3 separate regions of the Homo sapiens genome follow, and regions 1 and 3 are each linked to region 2. Evidence: fine-mapped expression QTL. A gene starts in region 2. Each other region holds a variant in brackets. All regions are shown on one strand. Distances are between the middles of the regions.

Region 1 (5,791 bases), 110 kb after region 2:
TCTCCATTACTGCTTGATTTTCTAATTGACCCCAATTAGGACTGACTCCCTTTAACTGTTGAAAGGAAACAGGCACAGATGGCTGTGCTTGTGTTTTTTCCCTTGCCTGAGTTTGAGCTTCATCAGCCCACCGGGTTTTAAACTGTAAGTACTGAGATAGAGTGAGAACAGATTTTGTTAAAGTATCCCAGTCATATTTTATCAATCTATTATTCAGAGCCACATTTTTTAGTAAAGTTTGTACAAAAGGAGAATTTGGCCCATATTGACTAATGGCTTGCTTAAATTCCATTAATAGCTTAAAAGAAAATGTGGCCCAACTAGCTATATTTTTCCCTCCTTGCTGGGTGATAGTAACAGGAAATTGCCATGCTTCAAGGTCTCCCTCAGCTCTAGCCTTTTGAATAGAATTTTGTATAGCACCACCAATTGCTCCAGATTTTAATGTTGCAACTACAGGAGCAGTAAATTTTACAGCTAATTCATTTTCTCGCCCATTATGGGGAGGGAAAGGAGGTGGCCATTCACTTAATTCAGCAGGTGGAGCTGATGGGTTAGTAAAACATACCCTTTTCAGTTTCCCTTTCTTAATTTCCTCTGGTTTTTGCTCCTCGCATTCAGAATCTGAAGTTAGTTTTTTACACACTTGTCTTCCTCATCTGAATCTGTCTCGTGATCTGTTTGAAATGGCTCAAGAGCAGCCTTTATCAATGCCCACACCAACCAATCAGAAACTGGAATTTTGGCTCCTTCTTTATAAGCCTTTTTAAAATCTCTGCCAATTCTTTTTTTTTTTTTTTTTTTGAGATGGAGTCTCGCTCACAAAAGTGGCTCGCTCAAAGGCTCTCGTGCCCCTTTTTTCAGGTGCGCTCTCATGGCGACTGGCCAAAGAGGCACCCCTCTGTGCAAACGTAAAATTTCTTTGCTAAAAATCGTTTGTTCGAGTGTTCAATTTCCTTAAAATTTTGAGCGTTATTCCTGACACTATGTATAAACAAGTACCTAGGGTGGACGCATTCCTCCTCTGACTTTCGGGAAGAGCCTGCTCTGTCTATGGAGTGGCTATTCTGTCATCACTTTACTCTCTTAACAAATTTACTTTTCTTTGCACTGTGGACTCACCCTGAATTCTTTCTTGTGTGAGATCCAAAGAACCCTCTCTTGGGGTCTGAATTGGGACGCCCTTTCTGGTAACATCTTTCTGGTGAACCTTGAAGGGATGATACTGAAGAAACCCACCGGCCCAAAGGAAATAGGCTGCAGCACTAATTGGCCGACTTTGGGTAAGTGGTGGGGCACCTGGGTAAAGGATGAGATTGGGTTAGAGGCCCAGCTTAGGGAGTTAGAGTCTCTCCTAAGACAGAGAGGGTTAAAGTTTCCTCTCAATAAAAGGCAAGGACGTGGCCAGGTGCGGTGACTCACACCTGTAATTTCAGCACTTTGGGAGGCCGAGGCGGGCGGATTGCCTGAGACCAGGAGTTCGAGACCAGCCTGGCCAACATGGTGAAAACCCATCTCTACTAAAAATACACAAATCAGCCAGGTGTGGTGGCACACACCTGTAATCCCAGCTACTAGGGAGGCTGAGGCAAGAGAATTGCTTCAACCCAGGAGGCAGAGGTTGCAGTGAGCCGAGATCGCACCACTGCACTCCAGCCTGGGCAACAGAGTGAGACTTCATCTCAAAAAAAAAAAAAAGAAAGAAAAGAAAAGAAAAGGCAAGGAGGCTTGACTGACCCTGGGTTTGAGGCCCAATTTAGGAAGGTTAGAGTCCTTCCTAAGATTTAGTCCTTCCTAAGAGTTAGAGGCCCCTCTCAGTAAAGTCCCTCTTGGCTAAGAACTGGTTTGGCACCACAGGATGTCAACTTTGCATTAATCTGTCTTGTCCTCTTTGCTGTATGAATCAATCTCTTGGTTGCTCTGCTTCACTGTCATTTTCAGGGGACTTCATTTAACTTGTCTTAGGGCTTTTATTATACTCTTCCCCTGTGTGCCTTCTGATTTCCATCCATTTGCTTGTGAAACATTGGGAACAAAAAGCATTGAAGGCTCCGTTTCTAAAATTGCGTATTCAGGTTTGGTATTTAACAGCTATGAGCAATAAGATTAGATAGATGTGGCTATGATTTTTTTTTTTTTTTTCTGAGACGGAGTCTCGCTCTGTTGCCCAGGCTAGAGTGCAGTGGTGCAATCTCGGCTCACTGCAAGCTCCACCTCCCAGGTTCATGCCATTCTCCTGCCTCAGCCTCCCAAGTAGCTGGGACTACAGGCACCCGCCACCACGCCCGGCTAATTTTTTTTTTTGTATTTTTAGTAGAGACGGGGTTTCACCGTGTTAGCCAGGATGGTCTGGATCTCCTGACCTCGTGATCTGCCCGTCTCAGCCTCCCAAA[G/A]TGCTGGGATTACAGGTGTGAGCCACTGCACCCAGCCGGCTATGCTTTTTGCAGCTATGCCAACTAGGTGTGATCAAGAAGCACTAGGATACAAATCAGGGGACTTTTCTCCTTGCTGTTTTGTTTCATTTACAGACTAAAAACAAAATGAAACAAAATAAGAAAACCCACTTCTTTTCTTTCTTTGATTTGGGCAAATCGGCTTCTTTTTTTTTTTTTTGAGATGGAGTCTCACTCTGTTGCCAGGCTGGAGTGCAGTGGCATGATCTCAGCTCCCTGCAACCCCCACCTCCTGGGTTCAAGCAATTCTCCAGCCTCAGCCTCCTGAGCAGCTGGGACTACAGCCACCATGTCCAGCTAATTTTTGTATTTTTAGTAGAGACGGGGTTTCACCATGCTGGCCAGGATAGTCTTGAGCTCTTAACCTCGTGATCCCCTCACTTCAGCCCAAAGTGCTGGGGTTACAGGCATGAGCCACTGCACCTGGACTTTTTTTTTTTTCGAGACAGAGTCTCGCTCTGTCACCCAGGCTGGAGTGCAGTGGCACCATCTCAGCTCACTGTAACCTCCACCTCCTGGGTTCAAGTGATTTCCTGCCTCAGCCTCCCGAGAAGCTGGGATTACAGGTGCACACCAACATGCACGACTAATTTTTTTTTTTTTTTGAGATGGGGTCTCTCTCTGCCACCCACGCTGGAGTGCAATGGTGCAATCTCAGCTCACTACAATCTCCACCTCCCAGGTTTAAGTGATTCTCCTGCCTCAGCCTCCCGAGTAGCTGGGATTACATGCATGCACCACCACACCCGGCTTATTTTTTCAATTTTTAGTAGAGACGGGGTTTTACCATGTTGGCCAGGTTGGTCTCGAACTCCTGGCCTCAAGTGATCTGCCCACCTCGGCCTCCCAAAGAGCTGGGATTACAGGCATGAGCCCCCGCACCCGGCCATGACTAATTTTTTGTATTTTTAGTAGAGATGTTGTTTCACCATGTTGGTCAGGCTGTTGTCGAACTCCTGACCTCAGGTGATCCACCTGCCTCTGCCTCCCAAAGTGCTGGGATTACAGGTGTGAGCCACCACACCCAGCCAACTGACTGGTAGGAAATTCTTGCTGGGTGCAGTGGCTCATGCCTGTAATTCCAGCACTTTGGGGGGCCCAGGCGGGCAGATCACCTGAAGTCAAGAGTTGGAGACCAGCCTGGCCAACATGGTGAAACCTTGTCTGTAGTAAAAATACAAAAATTAACTAGGCATGGTGGTGCGTGCCTGTAATCCCACCTACTCAGGAGGCTGAGGCAAGAGAATCGTTTGAACCCAGGAGGCGGAGGTTGCAGTGAGCCGAAATCACACCACTGCACTCCAGCCTGGGCGACAGTGCAAGACTCCGTCTCCAAAAAAAAAAAAAAAAAAAATCAATAACAAAAAAGAAATTCTTACCCTTTTGCTGGCATTCCAGCATTCCAGGCTTCTGGTTTGCCTTTCCCTGAGAGCCTCTAGTGACCCAGCTGGCTGCACCACACCCTTGGGGGCCAATCTGCAATACAAAGCTAAATTATCTTTTTCCATTCTGGCCAGAGCAAAATACGTGTGACAAAACATACACATTAGCCACTCGGCTCCGCCTGGAATATCTAACAGGCAAGGCTCAAACTTGCCCTGGTTGGGCCCCATCATCTTTAATCCAACCTCCGACCATGAGTTTCAACTTGGTCTCTGGGCAAGATGGTCACCCTGAATAACAGAAAAGATAAGAAAGGGAAAGGAGACAGAGAAAAACATTGCCTGTGGCAGGGTGGGGAAGGCCAGGAGCTTAGAGAGGCCAGAGAAGCCCCCCCCACTCCCATTGCAGTGACACTGAAAAGTTCAGGTGGCTGCTTGTCAGTAGCAAGGGGATCTTTTCCAGCAGTCCCATCAGCTCGCAAGTTTTCCCTTTTGGGGAGGAAAAAGCTCCCCATGTCCCATGATCCTGTACATTCCTAGTCCTGTCACCCATAGCCATCAGCAAGGCAGATTATTCCAAAGAGAACAGCAGTTAACAGCCCATTGTGCCAAACCCATTCCTAGCCAAGAGGGACTTTACTGAGAGGGGCCTCTAACCCCCTAACTCTTAGGAAGTAATCTAATCTTCCTAATTTGGGCATTGAACCAAAGTTTGGTCAAGTGTCCTTGCCTTTTATTGAGAGGAGCCTTTAACCAGGAGAGACTCTAACTCCACCAAGTTGGGCCTGTAAACCAATCTCATTCTTTATCTGGGTATATGCACCCCACTCACTCAAAGTGAGCCAAGTGGTGCACACAGATGATTTTCCTCTGGGTTGGGGGTTTCTTCAGTGTCAATGAAAAGAGTCAAACTCTGTAGACTATGTGAAGAGATTTATTCTGAGCCAAATATGAGTGACCATGGCCTGTGACACAGCCCTCAAGAGGTCCTGAGAACATGTGCCCAGGGTGGTCAGGGCGCAGCTTGGTTTTATACATTTTAAGGAGGCAAGAGACATCAATCAAATACATTAAAGAAATACATTGGTCTGGGCCGGGTGCAGTGGCTCACGCCTGTAATCCCAACACTTTGGGAGGCTGAGGTGGGCAGATCACAAGGTTGGGAGCTTGAAACCAGCCTGGCCAACATAGTGAAACCGTGTTTATACTAAAAATACAAAAGTTAGCCGGGCATAGTGGTGCGCACCTGTAGTCCCAGGTACTCAGGATGCTGAGGCAGAAGAATTGCTCGAACCCAGGAGGTGGAGGTTGCAGTGAGCTGAGATCATGCCACTGCACTCCAGCCTGGGTGACAGAGCAAAACTCCTGCTCAAAAAAAAGAAAAGAAAGTAAAGGAATAAAAGAGTGGGTACTCCATAGACAGAGCCGCCCGGCTAATTTTTTCGTATTTTTAGTAGAGATTGGGTTTCACCCTGTTGTTAGCCAGGATGGTCTCCATCTCCTGATCTCATGATCCTCCCACCTTGGTCTCCCAAAGTGCTGGGATTCCAGGGGTGAGCCACCATGCCTGGCATGGCTGCCCATTTTTATGGTTATTTCTTGATTTTTTTTTTTTTTTGAGGCGGAGTCTCACTCTGTCACCCAGGCTGGAGTGCAGTGGTGCAATCTCGGCTCACTGCAAGCTCCACCTCCCGGGTTCACGCCGTTCCCCTACCTCAGCCTCCCAAGTAGCTGGGACTACAGGCACCCGCCACCACGCCCAGCTAATTTTTTGTATTTTTAGTAGAGACAGGATTTCACCGTGTTAGCCAGGATGGTCTCGATCTCCTGACCTTGTGATCCACCCACCTCAGCCTCCCAAAGTGCTGGGATTACAGGCGTGAGCCACCGCGCCTGGCCCCTATTTCTTGATTATATCCTAAACAAAGGGTGGATTATTCATGCCTCCTTTTTTTA
Region 2 (5,350 bases):
AACTCTGTAAAATATTTGAAGAGATTTACTCTGAGCCAAATATGGTGACCAGTGGCCCCTGACGCAGCTCTCAGGAGATCCTGAGGACATGCCCAGGGTGGTTAGGGTTCAGCTTGCTTTTATACATCTTAGGGAGACATGAGACATCAATCAATACATATAAGATGTATACTGGTACAGAAAGTTTCCAGGTTATAGGCAGATTTAAAGATTTCTGATTGCCAATTGATTTAAAGAGTTATTGTCAATAGAAAGGAATGTCTGGGGTTGTGGAACTCAAGGTTTTACCAAGCAGATGAAACCTCCGGAGATAACAGACTGTAAATGTTTCTTATCAGACTTAAAGAGTCTGTTCTATCACTAATTCTAGAAGGGAGGAGGGTATAATGAGGCAAGTCCAGCTTCTGCTTCCCATCATGGCCCGAACTCATTTTTCAAATTAACTTTGGAATGCCCTTGGCTGAGAGGAGGGGTCTATTCATATGGTTGGGGGGTGGGGGGCTTAGAATTTTATTTTTTGGTTTACAACATTAATCCATTCATGACAGCAGAGCCTTATGACCTCCATAAATCCCATTAGACCCTGCCTCCCAACACTACTGCACTGGGGAGTAAGTTTCAACATGAATTTTGGAGAGGATAAAAACATTCAAATCATAGCAGGGGTGTTTTTCTTCATCTGGTTTCCTGACACCTTTAGGTCAAAGGTATCTCTCTCATTTGAGTTCCCTCTCAAAAGTGAACAGAGCTACCTCATCTCTCTTTAGAATATGAATTCTAGTCTTATTTTATATGAACATTGAGGTTTGTGTAGCAGGTATTTGGTGATTGCATATCTTAAAACTTGGCTTCTGTACTGTATGAGACTATCAGTTACGATACGAAGAAAATAAAAAGAGAGTAATACAATTGAGAATTAGGGAGATGAGTCACAGCTGGCTGTTACCAGGATGTGACATCTGTGCTGTGATCTGGATGAAAAAAAGAAAACCCTGGGGCTGTACAAGGAAGAAGATTCCAGGAAGAGGAAACAATACGTACAAAGGCCCTGAAGCAGGAATGGACTTACCCTGTTTGAGGAGTGGCTGGGGTCCAGAAATGGGCAGGAATGACAGGAGATGAGCTTGAGGGACTGAGGTGGGGTGTGGGATAGGACAGAGGCCAGTCCTGCTGAGTTTTCTAAGCTGTGAGCTGGAATTTGGATTTTACTTTAATTACTTGGGAAGCCAGTGCAGAATGTGAGGCAAGGACCTGATGTGAGATCCTAAAAGTGCCCTTGGCTGCCTGCTGGAGGATGAGCTGTAGGGGGCTGGAGTGGAAGTGGAGAGACACTCTCTTCTTACTTCTGTCACTCTTCCTTCTCCAGCCTCTCTTTCTCTGCTTGATCCTGAGATGGAAATTGTGGCTGTACCATCCATAGATTGCTTTCCTCTCAGTGCCCACTCTGACTGGGTTCACCTTCCTGCCAGCTGGGGCCTGTCCCAACACCTTGCCCCTTCCACCTTACCTCTCTCATGGTCCTCTCCCTCGAATTCAGCCTGTCCTACTTGAAATTTTCCTCTCCCTTGAATTCAGCCTGTCCTACTTGAACTTTTCCTCTCCCTCTGAAAGGGCTACTCCCCTTTGCCCACCCACAGTGAGTGCCAACACCACCCAACAACAAAAGCCCAACCCACAGGCCAGCTTTTTAAAATGATCCTCCATTACTAGTGGAAATATCTTCAAAATCTCTCTTGCCCACTGCTCACTCAAGTCTAGCTTCCTAAATGGCCATGCTTTCTTTGGTATCACCACCTACAGTCCCTCAGTCCCTTTTTTTGAGACAGAGTCTTGCCCTGCTGCCCAGGCTGGAGTGCAATGGCTTGATCTCGGCTTACTGTAGCCTCCGCTTCCCGGGTTCAAGCGATTCTCCTGCCTCAGCCTCCCAAGTAGCTGGGTACAGGTGCCCTCCACCAAGCCCGGCTAATTTTTGGTATTTTTAGTAGAGACGAGGTTTTATCATGTTGCCCAGACTGGTCTCGGAACTCCTGACCTCAGGCGATCCACCTGCCTTGGCCTCCCAAAGTGCTGGGATTACAGCTGTGAGCCACCGCGCCCGGCCCGTTTTTGTTTGTTTTAATGCCGGGTCTTGCTCTGTTGCCCAGGCTGAAGTGCAGTGGTGCGATCATAGCTCACTGCAACCTTGACCTCCCAGGCTCAAGCAATCCTTCCACCGCAACCTCCTAAGTAGCGGGGACTACAGGCGCGCGCCATCACACCGGGCTAATTTTTGTATTTTTTTTGTAGAGATGTGGTCTCGCTATGTTGCCCAGGGTGGTGTCGAACTCCTGAACTCAACTGATCCTCCCGCCACAGCTTCCCGAAGTGCTGGGACTACAGGAATGAGCCACCGCTCCCGAACCGCTCCATGCATATCGATAGAGGAAAACTCACAGGGTGCGTCGCTGGTAACCCATGCTCCCATAAAGCCTGGCCTCTGGAAAGAGACTTGGGAACGAGCCCTGACGTTCTCAGCCGTCGAGCTTCACAGAGAAGGGTAGCTCGAATTAGGTTCCTTATCTTAAAGAGAATAACAGCAGTCACTTTCTCACAATCTTGCGAACGCCAAATGGAAGGATCCCTCGAGAGCGCTGAGAACTCGCCGAGCTCCTCCCGGGAAACCCGGTACCACGAGGCGCCATTTTGCGGATGGGCAAACCGAGGCCCGCGGGGCCGCGACTTACCCAGGCCTTTTTGCAGTGGGAGGCGACGGTGGAGGAGGGTGGTCTGGGACCGGGACAACAAAGTCCATCCTGCCGCCGGCTTCGACGCAGGTGCCAGAAAGGTCCCAACCCCGCCCAGGCAGGGCGAGGCGGCGCGGCCCAGGAACCTGTCATGGCGGCGCCGCTGCCCGACGCCGGAAGTGCCCGCCTGGAACTACAGCTCCCAGCAGACCCCGCGGCGCGCTCCGGTCGACGCCGGGGAAGCAGCCGCCATTGTCCGCGGCTGAGGTGAGGCCTTTGCTCAGGCTGTGGGGCCGCCGTAGCTGCGGGGCTTGGGGGGTCAGGAGAGCCGGCTGGGAGAGGCGGCGTCAGGGTGGGTCCTGCGCCTGCCCTTTCCGCGCCGGCTTTGCGCCGTCGTTGCCGTCGGTTCTCCAGCCAGCAGCCTGCCTCCGGCCTCCCGCCTCCGGGCGTTCTTCGTTTTCTGGTCGGACGGGCCTGGGTGAACTCTGCTGCACGTCGGCTCCGCGGGCCTTTGTCCCCGAGGCCGCGCCGGGAGCTCCCAAGCGCACTCCTGGGCCGGACCTCGGCGCGGGACAAAAGCCAAACGCCCCAGGCGGGCAGACCCCGATCCTGCTGCGCCGCCTTCAAGGGGGACCGCCGGCCGCGAGCCAGGTGAGGCCGGGACGAGCTTTTGCAGCGTCGCGGCCGCGTCGGTCTTGAGGAGGAAATTTGGGTCGGGAGCTCTGGAAGCAGGTGATAAGGATGCTTCTGAGGCCATTGATGGGACGAATAACCCCGTTCGTTCCCCAGCCGTCGTTTCTCCCCCTGCCAGTTCACACAAAGCACTGTGAAGGACGTCAGACCTGGGTTGGAAACAGCTCCGGGTTCCCTTAAACATGCAGTGACGGCGGCGGTCACTGTCAAGTTGCAAATAATGGTGCAAAGTACGGTTTGCATTCTGCGTTTTCGCGCTGATTCCGGTGCTCCTGAGGCCCACTGTGTGTTCTAGTGCTTTATACACATACCCAGGAATCCATTCGAGAGGTTGCTGACTTGTACAAAGATCTGGAACCTGAGGAGTTAGGGGTCTGGGCGCCAGGCCCATCTCTAAGTCCTCCACACACACACAAGCTTAGGCTTAGTAAATCTTGGAGGTGAATTTTTTTTGGAGGTGGGATTAAATTTGCATAACATAATGTTCACTTTAAGCACTTAAAAGTGTGCAATTCACCGGTTTTATTGTATATTAATAAAGTTGTGCAATCATCCCCATTATCTAATTTTAGAACATTTCATCACCCCACAAAGAAACCCTTGTTCCCCTTAAGCAGTCACTCCCCATTTCATTTTTCCCCCAGCTCTAGGCAACCACTAATATATGAGGATTGCAAGTTGATTTTACAATAATTGTCAGATTAATCCAAAAGTTCCATCTGTGTTGTGACTGGCTGTCTCTTGGGAATAGCTGACAAATTTGTACCCTCTCATTCAGGATCATGCTCTTTTTTCCAGCTTATGCAAATTACCTTTCATTTCTCTCCAGGAATTGTGTTACTTTTTTGACATGTAAATTCTCTTTTCTTACGATGCTCCTTACAAGTTTTTTTGTTGCTTCGGTGGATGGATTCCCTTCTTTGTTCCCACTTGGTCTTCTGTGAGAAAGGACTAGTTTTGTCTTTTTTCACTTTTGTCACTAGGTTGGGATTTGCTGTGTTCCTGGGCAGGTGCCTGGTCAATCAGTCCTCGGGATGGCAGCCATCAACCCGTGGGCCTCCTGGGGTGAGTCCAAGTTGTGTTTCTCCTGGGCCTCCCCTATCATTAGCTGCTGCAGTCATGGGTCAGAGCTGGTGATGGGCTGAGGACTTTTGAGGATGGAAGGGGGTCTGTCTATCTTGGTACAAAATTAGAACTGATTGGTGGTAAAGGAGGAAAATTGTTGGCATAAAAGACACTAACTTTTATGTTTTATAGTCATCTCCTGAGAGGTGTCATTAGTTTTAAGGGATTTTTCTGGTGGTTTGTGGGGTTTCCTAAACAACAGTGATACATATAATAAAATATTGTCTCTACTGCTCTCATATATATTTTTACCTTTATTGTTTTTACTTATATAGCATTGGTTGGTAATTTTAAAACGGTGTTAATTAATAGTGACTCACCTGTGCATTGCCTGTGTGAATCCAGCTTATGTTGCATTTTTTTTACACACCCTTGGGCTCTGTTTATGGAATTTTGTAGTGCCCATTAGCGAGTCAGCCTCCTCTTGTATTTTGTCGCCTTGAATCACTAGGTTTGGTGTCACAGTCCTAACCTGATCCTTCTGTGCAGGTGCCCTTACGGACCAATCTTGGGGGATGACAGCTGTTGACCCATGGGCCTCCTGGGGTGAGTCAAGAGCCTGGTCAGCTGTGGGCTGCCATATTGTGGCCTCTGGCTGTAGTGCTCTGCCACAGCTGGGGAATAGAATGGGGACCAGGTGGGGCTTTAGGGCAGGTGGTCCAGATCTGTCTCTGTGCAGAGCTGGAACAAGGAGGAATCAGAAAACTAGTGGCCAGGCGTGGTGACTCACGCCTACAGCACTTTGGGAGGCCGAGGCGAGTGGATCACGAGGTCAGGAGATCGAGACCATCCTGGCTAACACGGTGAAA
Region 3 (5,791 bases), 39 kb after region 2:
TTAACTGAAAGACATAGCTAAAATGAACATTTTTGAGCACTTCTTTTCTTTTCTTTCTTTTTAGCAATAATTCGGCATAGACCTGCTCTTGTTAAAGTAATTTTAATTTCGAGCGTAGCCTTCAGCATTGCCCTGATATGTGGGATGGCAATCTCCTATATGATATAGTAAGTATCTGCTAAGTAATATCTGCTGTCCTTAAATGAGACATAACAAGTCAACTGATTATTATTTAATGTCAAAGGATGATGATGATACATCTTATAATTGCTAAAGTATTGGTCATTATAAATTTCCAGATTAGTGTTTTTCAACATGTGGATTGTACTCATGTTGAGGCATGATACACATGAAAAAAAAAGAAAGAAAGACACAGGACAGAATACAATTCAGCAGAATAGAAAATATTAGAAAATATTACGCCGGGCATGGTGGCTCACGCTTGTAATCCCAGCACTTTGGAAGGCCGAGGCGGGTGGATCATGAGGTCAGGAGATCGAGACCATCCTGGCTAACACGGTGAAACCCCGTATCTACTAAAAATACAAAAAATTAGCCGGGCGTGGTGGCGGGTGCCTGTAGTCCCGGCTCCTCGGGAGGCTGAGGCAGGAGAATGGTGTGAACCCGGGAGGCGGAGCTTGCAGTGAGCCGAGATCGTGCCACTGCACTCCAGCCTGAGTGACAGAGTGAGACTCGTCTGAAAAAAAAAAAAAGAAAAAGAAAAGAAAATATTACTTAAAGTATTAATGTAAAAGGCTGATTTTTAAACTTTTCAGATACATGTGAGACATGCACACACACACAGACACACGGTTGTGAAATAAAATATATTTCTTACTGGGAGTCATGATCAAAAATGCTTGAAAGACACAGTTTGAGATGCTAGCATCCTCCCAAAATTCAGTATTTTATTTTATTTTATTTTTTCTACTTTTTTTGGAGGGGAGGGGACGGAGTTTCGCTCTTGTTGCCCAGGCTAGAGTGTAATGGTATGGATCTTGGTTCACTGCAACCTCTGCCTCCTGGGTTCAAGCAATTCTCCTGCCTCAGCCTCCCAAGTAGCTGGGATTACTGCAGGCATACGCCACCATGCCAGGCTAATTTTGTATTTTTAGTAGTGATGGGGTTTCTCCATGTTGGTCAGGCTGGTCTCGAACTCCAGACCTCAGGTGATCCGCCTACCTTGGCCTCCCAGTGCTGGGATTAAAGGTGTGAGCCACCATTCCCAGACCCCAGAATTTGGTATTTTAAAATAAACTTGAGGCCGGGTGTGGTGGCTCATGCCTGTAATCCCAGCACTCTGGGAGGCTGAGGCGGGTACATCACCTGAGGTCAGGAGTTCAAGACTAGCCTGGCCAATATAGTGAAACCCCGTCTCTGCTAAAAATACAAAAATTAGCTGGGCGTAGTGGTGGGCACCTGTAATCCCAGCTACTTGGGAGGCTGGGGCAGGAAAATTGCTTGAACCTGGGAGGCAGAGGTTGCAGTGGGCAGAGATCACGCCATTGCAATTCAGCCTGGGCGACAAGAGCAAAACTCTGTCGCAAATAATAAATAAATAAATAAATAAATAAATAAAATAAAAAGAACTTGCTACTCTGGAAGGAATCTCAATAGTGCACAGCAGAAAAGAGCGACCACTCTCCCTTTCACTAGAAATGTGTCAGTGCAGTCTGGGGTGATAGCAGCTTTGGGGGAAGTTACATCACCGTCTTCGCAAATAAAGCTTGGGGTCAAGCTGTTTTGAGTGATGTAATCATTTTGAAATTCACGGTAGAAAAAGGTGAGACACACTGTGATCTCATGCGGTTCTGACCAAACCAACAGATTCTGACTCCTACTGTATGATTCCGTGCTAGGATTCCATTGTATCCCACCAGAAACAGCTTGAGAAGTACAAAATTGCTTGCTTCGTTGAATTAAGTGTGAAAACAAGATATATTGCCATGTGTGAGATATTTTCTGAGGCAGCTATGTTAAGACCACCTTGGAGTAGGTCACATGAAGGCAAAGTGACATTAAAGGTAAAAGGGGAATTTTGCTAATGAGAGCGTAACCTGCGTGCTTGGTTGTGGGTTATCTCCACTACATCCGCTTAATTTATGTAAATGTATAGGCCGGGGGCATTGGCTCACACTTGTGATCCCAACACTTTGGGAGGCCGAGGCGGGTGGATCCCTTAAGCTCAGGTGTTTGAGACCAGCGTGGGCAACATGGTGAAACCGCGTCTATACAAAAAATACAAAAATTAGCCAGGTGTGGTAGCACGCACCTGTAGTCCCAGCTACTCAAGAGGCTGAGGTGGGAGGATGGCTTGAGCCCTGGAGGTGGAAGTTGTAGTGAGCTGAGATTGCACCACTGCACTTCCTCCTGGGCGACAGAGTGAGACCATGTCTCAAAAACAAAAATTATGTAACTGTAGCTTCTGTATATTTCATTATTATAACAAAACTATTAATAAATATAAAGTTTTGTAATGCAACTCAGTAAAACATATCTCCTGGACACTCAGTGTTGAATTGAGTTGCTGAGCTAGTCAATTCTTATTGTTTTCACATTTGTATTAGCACTAAGCTATAGTGGAGCCTGGGGCCAAAACCAAAACCAAAACGAAAACAAACAAAAAAAACAAAACCACCTGTTCAAAAGTACAAGTTTTATGTAATTTTTAGTGGTTCATTTTTTCCAGAAGTAGATTTTGAAAATACTATTGGTAAGTTTGCTTTTATTTAAACCAGGAAAGTAAAATTACAATTAATTTTGTTTAGGGTAGAGATAAAATATTTATTTTTATTTTTATTTTTTTAGAGACGGAGTCTTGCTCTGTTGCCCAGGCTGGAGTGCAGTGGCGTCATCTCAGCTCACTGCAAGCCCCGCCTCCCAGGTTCACGCCATTCTCCTGCCTCAGCCTCCCAAGTAGCTGGGACTACAGGCACCCGCCACCACGCCCGGCTAATTTTTTTTTGTATTTTTATTAGAGACGGGGTTTCACCATGTTACCCAGGATGGTCTCAATCTCCTGACCTCGTGATCCGCCCGCCTCGGACTCCCAAAGTGCTGGGATTACAGGCGTGAGCCACTGTGCTTGGCCTAGATAAAATATTTAAACTTAATGTTGTGACTTTTCATACACCAGTTTTCAATTATTAAATATATTCTGAACTTCTTAAGTGTTTTGGAAAAGAATAAGC[A/G]TTTAAAAATACATTAAAACGTGTATAGGGACTCACACCTTTCCTTTTGACTCAAGCTCCCCTGTGGTTTAGCACAGCACTGTTTGGATCCTATCTCTGTTTACAATCTTGATATTTGGTATATCCTGGATTTTGTTTTTTTTGCTTCATTTCAATTTTTAAAAATACTGAGTTAAGGACCGGGCGCGGTGGCTCACGCCTGTAATCCCAGCACTTTGGGAGGCCGAGGTGGGCGGGTCACCTGAGGTTGGGAGTTCGAGACCAGCCTGACCAACATGGAGAAACCCCATCTGTACTAAAAATACAAAAAAATTAGCCAGGCATGGTGGCACATGCCTGTAATCCCAGCTACTCGGGAGGCTGAGACAGGAGAATCACTTGAACCTGGGAGGTGGAGGTTGTGGTGAGCCAAGATCGCGCCATTGCACTCCAGCCTGGGCAAAAAGAGTGAAACTCCATCTGCAAAAAAAAAAAAAAAAATTGAGTTAAAATACTCATCTTCATTTTTCACTGTTTGGGGTACCTCCTTACATTTCGCACTGAGGCGAGCACCTCCCTTTTGTCACTCAAATCTTGCTCCTGTCCCAGCCTTTTGAGCAAGAAAAACAAAAAATAAACTAACCCTAAAAGTTTTTTGTTTTTTTTTTTGAGATGGAGTTTCACTCTTGTTGGCCAGGCTGGAGTGCAATGGCACCATCTCAGCTCATTGCAACCTCCGCCTCCCAGGTTCAAGTGATTCTCCTGCCTCAGCCTCCCAAGTAGCTGGGATTACAAGCATGTGCCACCACGCCCTGCTAATTTTGTATTTTTTTAGTACAGACGGGGTTTCTCCATGTTGGTCAGGCTGGCCTCCAACTCCTGACCTCAGGTAATCTGCCCGCCTCGGCCTACCAAAGTGCTGGGATTACTGGCGTGAGCCACCGCGCCTGGCCCCTAAAAGTATTTTTTTAATATATAATTCACACAGTACTGGGAAGGTAAGTATGTTAGGAAAACACTGTCATCCATTTCCACACCAAACAGAAATAGCTGTTCAGTGATCCACTTCCAGGATTGGACCTACAGTGAGGTAGAAAAATCAGTAACACCCATTCTGTCCTATTTTGTTCATCACGGATTTCTTGACATTAATTTTTATTTTGTAAAATATTACACTGAAACATGATTATGGCCGGGCACAGTGGCTCACACCTGTAATTCCAGTGTTTTGGGAGGCCAAGGAGGAAAGACAGCTTGAGCCTAGGAGTTTGAGACCATCCTGGGCAACATAGCAAGACGCAATTTCTAAAAAAAAAAATACAAAAATAATTAGCCGGGCATGGTGCCACGAGCCTGTGGTCCCAGCTACTTAGGAGGCTGAGCAGGTAAGACTGTTTGAACCCAGGAGTTGGCAGCTGCAGTGAACCATGATTGTATCAGTTCACTTCTAGCCTGGGTGACAGAATGAGACCCTGTTCCAAAGAGAGAAAGAGAGAGAGAAAGAGAAAGGGAGAGATACAGAGAGAGAAAGGGAAAGAGAAAGGGAGAGAGAGAGAGAAAGGGAAAGAAAAAGGAAAGAAAAGAAGGGAGGGAGGAAGGAAAGAGAGGAAAGAAGAAAGAAAAAGGAAAAAAAAGAGAAAGAAAAAGAGAAGAGAAAGGAATGGAAAGAAAGATGATTTGTTTGATTATGGATTTTTTGTCAACACCTTAAGTTTGGAACCCAATGTGAGTGCCTTGTTCACGTCTAGTCCTGGCTTTGATCCATGCTTTGGGATGATCGGAGTTACTCCTTACTCCAGGAAATGGCCTGACCATGTAGACAGTTGAGAGCTGACCATGATTAGTCTGGTTTCAAAGTCTTATGTCTGCACCCACTCCACAAGCGACTCCTTTCCTGTCAAAAAGTGGCATGGTTGAGAAATGAATTATTCATCATGAAAACTGTGCTTCTAAATTCATTTATATCATTCTCCAGTCGACTGGCACAGGCTGAGGAAAGACAACAGCTCGAGTCACTTTATAAGAACCTCAGGATACCGTTATTAGGAGATGAAGAAGAGGGCTCAGAGGACGAGGGTGAGTCCACGCACCTACTTCCAGAGAACGAAAATGAGCTGGAAAAGTTCATCCACTCAGGTAGTGTGACCTGTAAGAGCTATTCGCAGGAAAGCCAAGCTGGCAGCGGCAGCTTGCGTTTCTTTTCTTTCTTTCTCAGCGGTGGCTTGCATTTCTTTTCTTTCTTTCTTTCCTTTCTTTCTTTCTTCCTTCCTTTCTTTCTTTCATTTTTTTTTTAAGACGGACTCTTACTCTGTAGCCCAGGCTGGAGTGCAGTGGCGCGATCTCTGCTCACTGCAAGCTCCGCCTCCCAGATTCACGCCATTCTCCTGCCTCAGCCTCCCGAGTAGCTGGGAGTACAGGCGCCCGCCACCATGCCCGGCTAATTTTTTGTATTTTTAGTAGAGACGGGGTTTCACCATTTTAGCCAGGATGGTCTCGGAAGGCAGCTATGCTCACCACTATACCACCAACGCTCGGGTGCCAGGATGGTCTCGATCTCCTGACCTCGTGATCCGCCCGCCTCGGCCTCCCAAAGTGCTGGGATTACAGGCGTGAGCCACCGC

Evidence for each region. PIP is the estimated chance that this variant, and not a neighbour inherited with it, causes the effect. A credible set is the group of variants that fine-mapping cannot tell apart.
Region 1: its variant is the best candidate, but not a certain one, in a credible set for the expression of ZNF606-AS1 in minor salivary gland (GTEx, PIP 0.78).
Region 3: its variant is the best candidate, but not a certain one, in a credible set for the expression of ZNF606-AS1 in lung (TOPMed, PIP 0.66).

The regions. Positions count from the first base shown.
Region 1 is chr19:57,891,187-57,896,977 of GRCh38, reverse strand. It overlaps a transcript of ZNF814 not described here. Among named protein-coding and RNA genes, the nearest start is that of ZNF814, 5.0 kb to the right of the region's middle. The variant G/A (reference allele first, on the strand shown) is at 2,394.
Region 2 is chr19:58,000,420-58,005,769 of GRCh38, reverse strand. ZNF606-AS1 (ZNF606 antisense RNA 1) reads right to left here and starts at 2,876. Exons shown (of 4, transcript NR_036508.1): 1 at 2,724-2,876; 2 at 2,434-2,559; 3 at 1,070-1,387. ZNF606 (zinc finger protein 606) reads left to right here and starts at 2,950. Exons shown (of 7, transcript NM_001348022.3): 1 at 2,950-3,374; 2 at 4,400-4,481; 3 at 5,031-5,087. The coding sequence starts at 4,451. RefSeq lists an enhancer at 2,599-3,018.
Region 3 is chr19:57,960,906-57,966,696 of GRCh38, reverse strand. It overlaps C19orf18 (chromosome 19 open reading frame 18), which reads left to right. Exons shown (of 6, transcript NM_152474.5): 4 at 65-167; 5 at 5,146-5,306. Among named protein-coding and RNA genes, the nearest start is that of C19orf18, 11 kb to the left of the region's middle. The variant A/G (reference allele first, on the strand shown) is at 3,192.